Linked DNA regions of Homo sapiens: region 2 is reported to be linked to region 1. The links are microRNA targets in miRTarBase. Many come from high-throughput screens and were not tested one by one. Region 1 holds a microRNA gene; the other region holds the end of a gene's coding sequence.

Region 1 (3,410 bases):
GGTTAACCCCAGGGTAAACTATGTTGTTAATGAGAAGCTCTACAACTTGCTCAAGACCACACAATGAATCAGTGCAGAACGAACATACAAACCTCTTTCTTGTTCACCACATACACCATTGATACCCTTGATATGGACACAACCATAGTCAATGGGGGCTTGGCATCTGAACTACAAGGATGGTGAATGACCAATGGGTGCAGGGTTCTACCAAACTCTGTTCTTGATCAAAAAATATCCATGCCCTGCTTCCCTGCTCAGAACTCAGAGGAAGGCAGCAGCTGAGGACAAAACCTGATGCCACCACCCTGGAACCATGCAAGGCAGATGAGGGTGGCAGGTTTCCTGGCAGTTCCCTGGGCTTTCTGAGTTCTGAACATTACTCCAGCCTGTTGGTGAGGCCCTTCTCTTACTTGTTCTGTGTTCCAGAGTATATCTTGGAACCTCCACCCTGCATATCAGCACCTGAAAACTGTACTCACCTGTGTACAATGCAGGAAGATTGCGAGAAAGGATTTCAGTGCTGTTCCTCCTTCTGTGGGATAGTCTGTTCATCAGAAACATTTCAAAAGCGCAACAGGTAAGAGATATCTCATATCCAGGTCTGATCCTAGAGCTGCTGGTGGGAGCCCAGCAGAAGAGTCCCTTACCAGCAACTGTGCTGGATCTCTCCTTTTTTTTTTTTTTCCTTGGTGGCCATGTTGCCAACATGCCCCTTCTCTTGACCAAGGATAATTTCCATAAAAGTCCTGATTAGAAAAGCCCTCCTCCCCTCCCAATCACCACATCCCATCACCATATCCGTGAATTTCTGACTCTGCCTCTCTGAACACACCCACAAATGCCTTTATCCACAGACCTTCCCCCGACCCAGAATCCACCCTTATCCCAGGGACACTGTACCTGCAGGTGTAACCAAAATCCCAAAGCAAAATTTGTCCTACACTTTTGCTTGCCCTCCTTTCACAAGACACCATCCTTTGGCCACCAGTGTTCTTGGGCTCTGGAGATCCAGCCCAAAGGAAGTTTTGATTAATTGTCCAGACATTAACACTAGCCGCAAGCCTGCTAAATGGAGTGTGCTCCCAGGGCAGAGAAAGGACATAGGGTGCTGATGAGACATATGGTTTCTAATCCCATCTTGCAACTATGTCTTTCTATGACCTTGAGTAAGACAATTCCCTCTTTTTTACTTTCTTTTTCTCATGAGTAAAATAAGTACTCTTGTTTTTTCCTGCTTTGCAAGGCCCATATGAAATTTCAAAAGACTCACAGTGGAAGACTCAACCAATGAGCCCTTTGAGGGAAGCCTGGCAGTCTTGTTCCCTGCTGTATTCCCTACCATGAGCAGAATACCCAGCATGAGATAATGTGCAGAGTGATTAAGCATGGGCTCAAAGCCAAACACCTGGGCTCAAATCCTGGCTTCTTAGCTAAGTGACCTTAAGTGATCTTAGACAAGCTAATTAACCTCTCTCTGGGCATCAACTTCCTCATCCTTAAGACTGGAACAATAATAGTGAGGTTAAAATAGACAATCCATGTAAGCTTTAAAACATTACTTGCCAACATAATTGCTGTGAATTTTGGGGATTAGGCAACCACTTCTCTTTGAAGAGACTAGCCCTTGCAATTAAATTCCACATCTTTCAATGCTCTACATTGGAATGCAGAAGCATAAATATAACTCTTTGGTGTCATTGAGTTTTTTGAGGTTCTGCCTTCCCTATGGCAAGAGAAATGAGCTTCATGGTCTAATATTAATGGTGGAAGTAATTGAAAGAAAAATATATATCTCTAAAAGTAAAACTTCACTAGTTAATATTTGAAAATATTTTTCTTCTACAGAATCAAACACAAGGGCTCAGAAGTCATCATGCCTGCCAACTGAGGCATATTTCCTAGATCATTTTGTAAGTACAGGGATTTGGTCTCGCCTTCCTCATGTGAGATTCCCAGGGATGCTCACTTTCTTCCTGTAGCCTCACCAGGGGCACTACATTCCCACAAGCTCAGAATGGCCTCTCATTACCTGATTGCCTCCTCCTCCATCATTCCCCTCCAAGGGCTATCTTTGCACTCCCTGGGGGAGGCACGGTGCAGTCCAGCATGAATTCTGCAACACAGAGCAATGTAAGGAACCAAGTCATGGCCCAGGGGGAACCCAGGGCACTCAGATCTGAGGCTTTGTCAAGGAACAAGCTCTTCTAGCCTCCGGGTTGACAGCACCCTGGGCAGGGACTCAAGCTGAGCCCTTCACGCTCTGAGACTTTGGTCTGCTCACTGTACCTCTCTGAGACAGTCACCTCCCTCATGTGAAATATGAAGAAAACATCCATGCCTTGGGGTATTGGGAGGACAACACAAGGCCATGTAGATGGAAGAACTTGGTCTCTGCAAAGGTAGAAACTGCCAGCAACTCACTTACAAGGTCACTCATTCAGGTTCCAGTTTTTTCTCTGAAAAAAGAGGGAGTGGGCCGGGTATGGTGACTCACACCTGTAACCCCAGCACTTTCGGAGGCCAAGGTGGACGGATCACGAGGTCAGGAGTTCAAGACCAGCCTGACCAACAGAGTGAAACCCTGTCTCTACTAAAAATACAAAAATTAGTTGGGTGTGATGGTGCACACCTGGAATCCCAGCTACTCAGGAGGCTGAAGCAGGAGAATTGCTTGAACCCAGGAGGCAGAGGTTGCAGTGAGCCAAGAGTGCACCATTGCACTCCAGCCTGGGCGACAGAGTGAGACTCCGTCTCAAAAAAAAAAAAAGAGGGAGTGGGAATCATCTTTATTATTTTACTGATGCTTCAAGAATGGTGAACAAAATGGAGTCCTGTGGAATTCCACCACCAAAAAAATGATAGTATTCATAAGTTGGTGGATTTCGTTTCAGAGTATTTGAAAGAAAAAGTTAGAAGTTTAGGGTCTTCTAATGGGCCTTCTGATGTCTCCAGATGTTCCAAATTAGAATGGTGGTCTTTCAGCTTAGTCCTTTTATTAACCCTGTACAAAGGAGCGTGATAAATAGTAGCAGGTGGAGGCCAGTGGAGCAGTTTAGACGCATGAGCACTTGCCCAGGCTCCGGTGAGCCCACCATGCTGCGGATGAGCTCCCACTCATGCTTCAAGGTTTCTATTAAATTAAACACTCCATAGAAACTTCACCAGTTCACTCCAGACAGAATTAGTCCCTCTCTTTGTCTTTTGTAGTGTCCTATCTTTGGCCTACCATAACCTAGTGACCCCTGATCCAGGGCAGGAAATACTGTTCAGAAAAATCTATAGACTCTTTTACTACCAGAAACTGACCATATGTGGTTCGAGTTGACCTGAGTGAGGCAGGTCTCTTACATACAGGTTGGCTATCACTGTTTTAATAATCTGAGTTTGATCTATCCAATACTGTAGGC
Region 2 (3,410 bases), not on the chromosome of region 1:
CCTGCGGGGCACGTACAGCCCTTCTTCTCTCATCCATAAGGAAGAGGGTTCTGTTGTTGTTGTTTTGAATGAGCCCATCATAAAAGCAGCAGAAACCATTTGACAGTAGCCATGCTACTGTTTCTGAGTACCCAGAAGGCTATTTGTAGCCTTCGTGAACACTTGCTTTCTAAGCCTTTTGAAATCACGAGAGATAGCATAGCAAATAGGAACCTGTTGTATATTCCATTTGGCTATATTTTGTTTGTTTGTTCATGTTGTCAGCTCACTGCTTAGAATCTAAGGAGACAAGACCATAATAAAGGACAGTGTAGAAGACCTGAAGTTTTAAGCTCCAAATCTCTTAGCTACCAAAATAAATAAATACTACAGAGCTGTTTGTGAGCAAGAGAAAACATCTAGACAGAGTAAGGCTAAAGTCCTTTTTCCTTCACCCCTACCCTCTCCTCTTTTGCATCTAGAGATTTGGAAAATTGCTAGAACCATGAATTATTAGGTATGATGTTTTATTTTATTAGGTTGGAATGAAATACAGAAACCTAATCCTGAAACCTGGGGGATCTCTGGACGGCATGGACATGCTCCACAATTTCTTGAAACGTGAGCCAAACCAAAAAGCGTTCCTAATGAGTAGAGGCCTGCATGCTCCGTGAACTGGGGATCTTTGGTAGCCGTCCATGTCTGGAGGACAAGTCGACATCACCATGTGTTACTGGCCTGGAAACTGAAGGGAGTTTTGCAAGTGAAAATTTAGATTTCTATTGACATCCTTTTGTTTTCTAATTTTAAAAATTATAAAGATGTAAATGGAATTATAAATACTGTGACCTAAGAAAAGACCCACTAGAAAGTAATTGTACTATAAAATTTCATAAAACTGGATTTGATTTCTTTTTATGAAAGTTTCATATGAATGTAACTTGATTTTTTACTATTATAATCTAGATAATATGATATAAGAGGGCTAAGAATTTTTAAATTGAATCATATATATGATATAATTTGATCCTTCTTGTATCTTGAAGTTTTGTACTTGGGATTTCTGGACTGATAAATGAATCATCACATTCTTCTGGTAAATATTTTCTTGGAGCTCTGTGTCAACTTTGATCCTTTGTCTCCCAGGAAGGTGTGACCTCTCCTTTGCCTGCATACCTCAAGGCCAGGGGAATATGCCTCAGTGATGCATTTATCTTTGTATATCAGGCCGCATGATTCCCAACTTTCTGCCACACTTAAATTACGTTCCTCCATTTCAGTTTTGTCTTTTCTGTCTAAAGTTCAGTCAAAGAGTATCAAAAAATTATGTTTCAGCTAGACTGGTGTAATGTATAAGTTTTTGTATCTTGTATTAGAGGATTTCGTAGCTTTTATTAGAGGCTCATTTCCACCTCAGCATACAAGATCGTTAGTCTTTTGGCATGTGTGCCAATTAGAATACTAAAGCAAGTCCAAGCACATTTTTCTCTTCTCACGTTTCTAATAAGTGTTAGGGACTTTGCCTCTTTTACTTACCACGTCCCCAAAAGTGTCAGGTAGACATGTCACAAATGGCTCTGTAGAGAGCCATGGGAAGAGAGAGGAGGTGGATGTGGAACATAAAGGGTTCAGAAACTCCAGAAGAGGAGTGGGTTTTGGATAGAAGCATTTGAGGACAGCTGCTCCAAAGCCTTATGTGTATGATGAAACTTAACCACGGGGAAGAGACTCTTCAGTAGCCTGTTCTGTCTGGTGATTTTTATTTTAAGTGAACCTTTGGATCTATCTTTAACTCTCTTTATTGTGAGTCTAAATTCCAATTCTGCAGCAGATCAGTAAACTCACAGTATTTTTCCTGTGGAAATCTATTCAATAAGGAAACCAAGACAGGATAATAAAATTTAAAAAAAAAACAACTTTGAATTCCCCTGCCTAGGTCTTCCAGTTGTTTTCCAGCGCATACCTCAGGTATGACTTTGCTAGCCGGGGACAAAATTAGCACCTTCCGATTCTCTAGTCCAAATGAACTTTGTGCTAAATAAAAAATTATTATACTACATAATAAAGTTACAGATAGCAGGAAATGCAAGAGCTAGGAGATTCCTAGATTATATCTGCCAAGCAAATACCTTAAACATCCACCTGAAATCCTACTACCCCCTCTTCTGAGATAATTTGCCCAGCCCTTCTCTTCCCACACACTCACTCAATGTCACCCCCTTCTAATCCCCAAAACTGTTTTTGTGGTCTTTGTAGCCTATAGTAGTTTTCTCACATCTTTCCCCCTAGACTTTTCTGTTTTTCAGTTTCAGACAAAAAAACTCTTCAGCTTTTTCCAGTGTGTCTCCTTAACAGTAACTTTACCACTTGAAATCTTATTTCATAGAAAAACTAAATTGGTGTGGAAAGGCTGCACACAATAAAGTTATATTATTATCCATGAAAATGAACTCATATTTCTTTCATACTTTAACGTTAAAACCGAAATGCATGAGAGCAAAAGCACCATGGTGTTCTTTCTATTTAGGGCCTACCTCTAATATTTAAAATCTACCAAAGAGCAGTCACAAAATTAAAACTCAGCCCGGGCGCAGTGGCTCATGCCTGTAATCCCAGCACTTTGGGAGGCCAAGGCAGGAGGATCACCTGAGGTCAGAGTTCAAGACCAGCATGGTCAACATGGTGAAACCCTGTCTCTACAAAAATACAAAAAGCTGGGCATGATGTTGGGTTCCTGTAGTCCCAGCTACTTAGGAGGCTGAGGCAGGAGAATAGCTTGAACCCGGGAGGTGGAGGTTGCAGTGAGCTGAGATCATGCCATTGCACTCCAGCCTGGACGACAGAGTGAGATTCAGTCTCAAAAAAAATTAATACTCAAAGAATTATCTAGCATAATTTAAAAGAAAGGACTTTTTAAAAATTCTCTAGCATAATTCAAAAGAAAGGACTTAACTTTTTTTTTTTTAGTGTGGTCATCCGTCTAGTTGTTCTTTTTTTCCAGATCAGAGCAGAGAATATCACTGACATGCTTGAAATGGTGGATAACTATGTAAATTGTAATTGGACAAATGTACACTTTAGATTTATGGACTGAGCCACATATAATAAGGTCTCTCCTGGTAATTGATCCAGGGGATTTAGGCCTCTTTCGGGTTTTTTGTTTTTTTTTTAGGCATTGTTATGTTGTGAAGGATAAAATCTTCAACATCTTATGCAAATGGATAGTAGGCATGATCCTAAAGGTTTAGTTTTACGATGCTGCAGAGAAGAGAAATGTCTTGACGTTTTGCCACCTGATGTAGACTTTGTCCCCCTCTAGTATAAATGTTGCATGTTACCTAGATAAACAACTAAAAATTGCCTTGAGTTATCACCTGAGCTACTTATGCCAAGGTCTTGCCTTTCTAAAGCTAATAAGGTGAGAGGTGGAT

What was found. The annotated mature microRNA hsa-miR-3617-5p reads AAAGACAUAGUUGCAAGAUGGG and lies in region 1 at 1,136-1,157, opposite strand. An mRNA with a match to its seed (bases 2 to 7 or 8) in the 3' UTR can be bound and repressed. Matches are read on the target gene's strand: a 7mer-m8 pairs with bases 2 to 8, a 7mer-A1 pairs with bases 2 to 7 and ends in A, and an 8mer does both.
Region 2: miRTarBase lists NLN as a target of hsa-miR-3617-5p. Seed matches in the 3' UTR shown: 7mer-m8 at 3,253-3,259.

Annotation. Positions count from the first base shown.
Region 1 is chr20:45,704,015-45,707,424 of GRCh38, forward strand. It overlaps MIR3617 (microRNA 3617), which reads right to left and starts at 1,166; the gene lies at 1,088-1,166. WFDC10B (WAP four-disulfide core domain 10B) reads right to left here and starts at 1,005. Exons shown (of 4, transcript NM_172006.2): 1 at 904-1,005; 2 at 483-547. It overlaps WFDC13 (WAP four-disulfide core domain 13), which reads left to right. Exons shown (of 4, transcript NM_172005.2): 2 at 430-580; 3 at 1,849-1,913. The coding sequence ends at 1,891.
Region 2 is chr5:65,822,263-65,825,672 of GRCh38, forward strand. NLN (neurolysin) reads left to right here. Exons shown (of 13, transcript NM_020726.5): 13 at 519-3,410. The coding sequence ends at 653. Among named protein-coding and RNA genes, the nearest start is that of NLN, 100 kb to the left of the region's middle.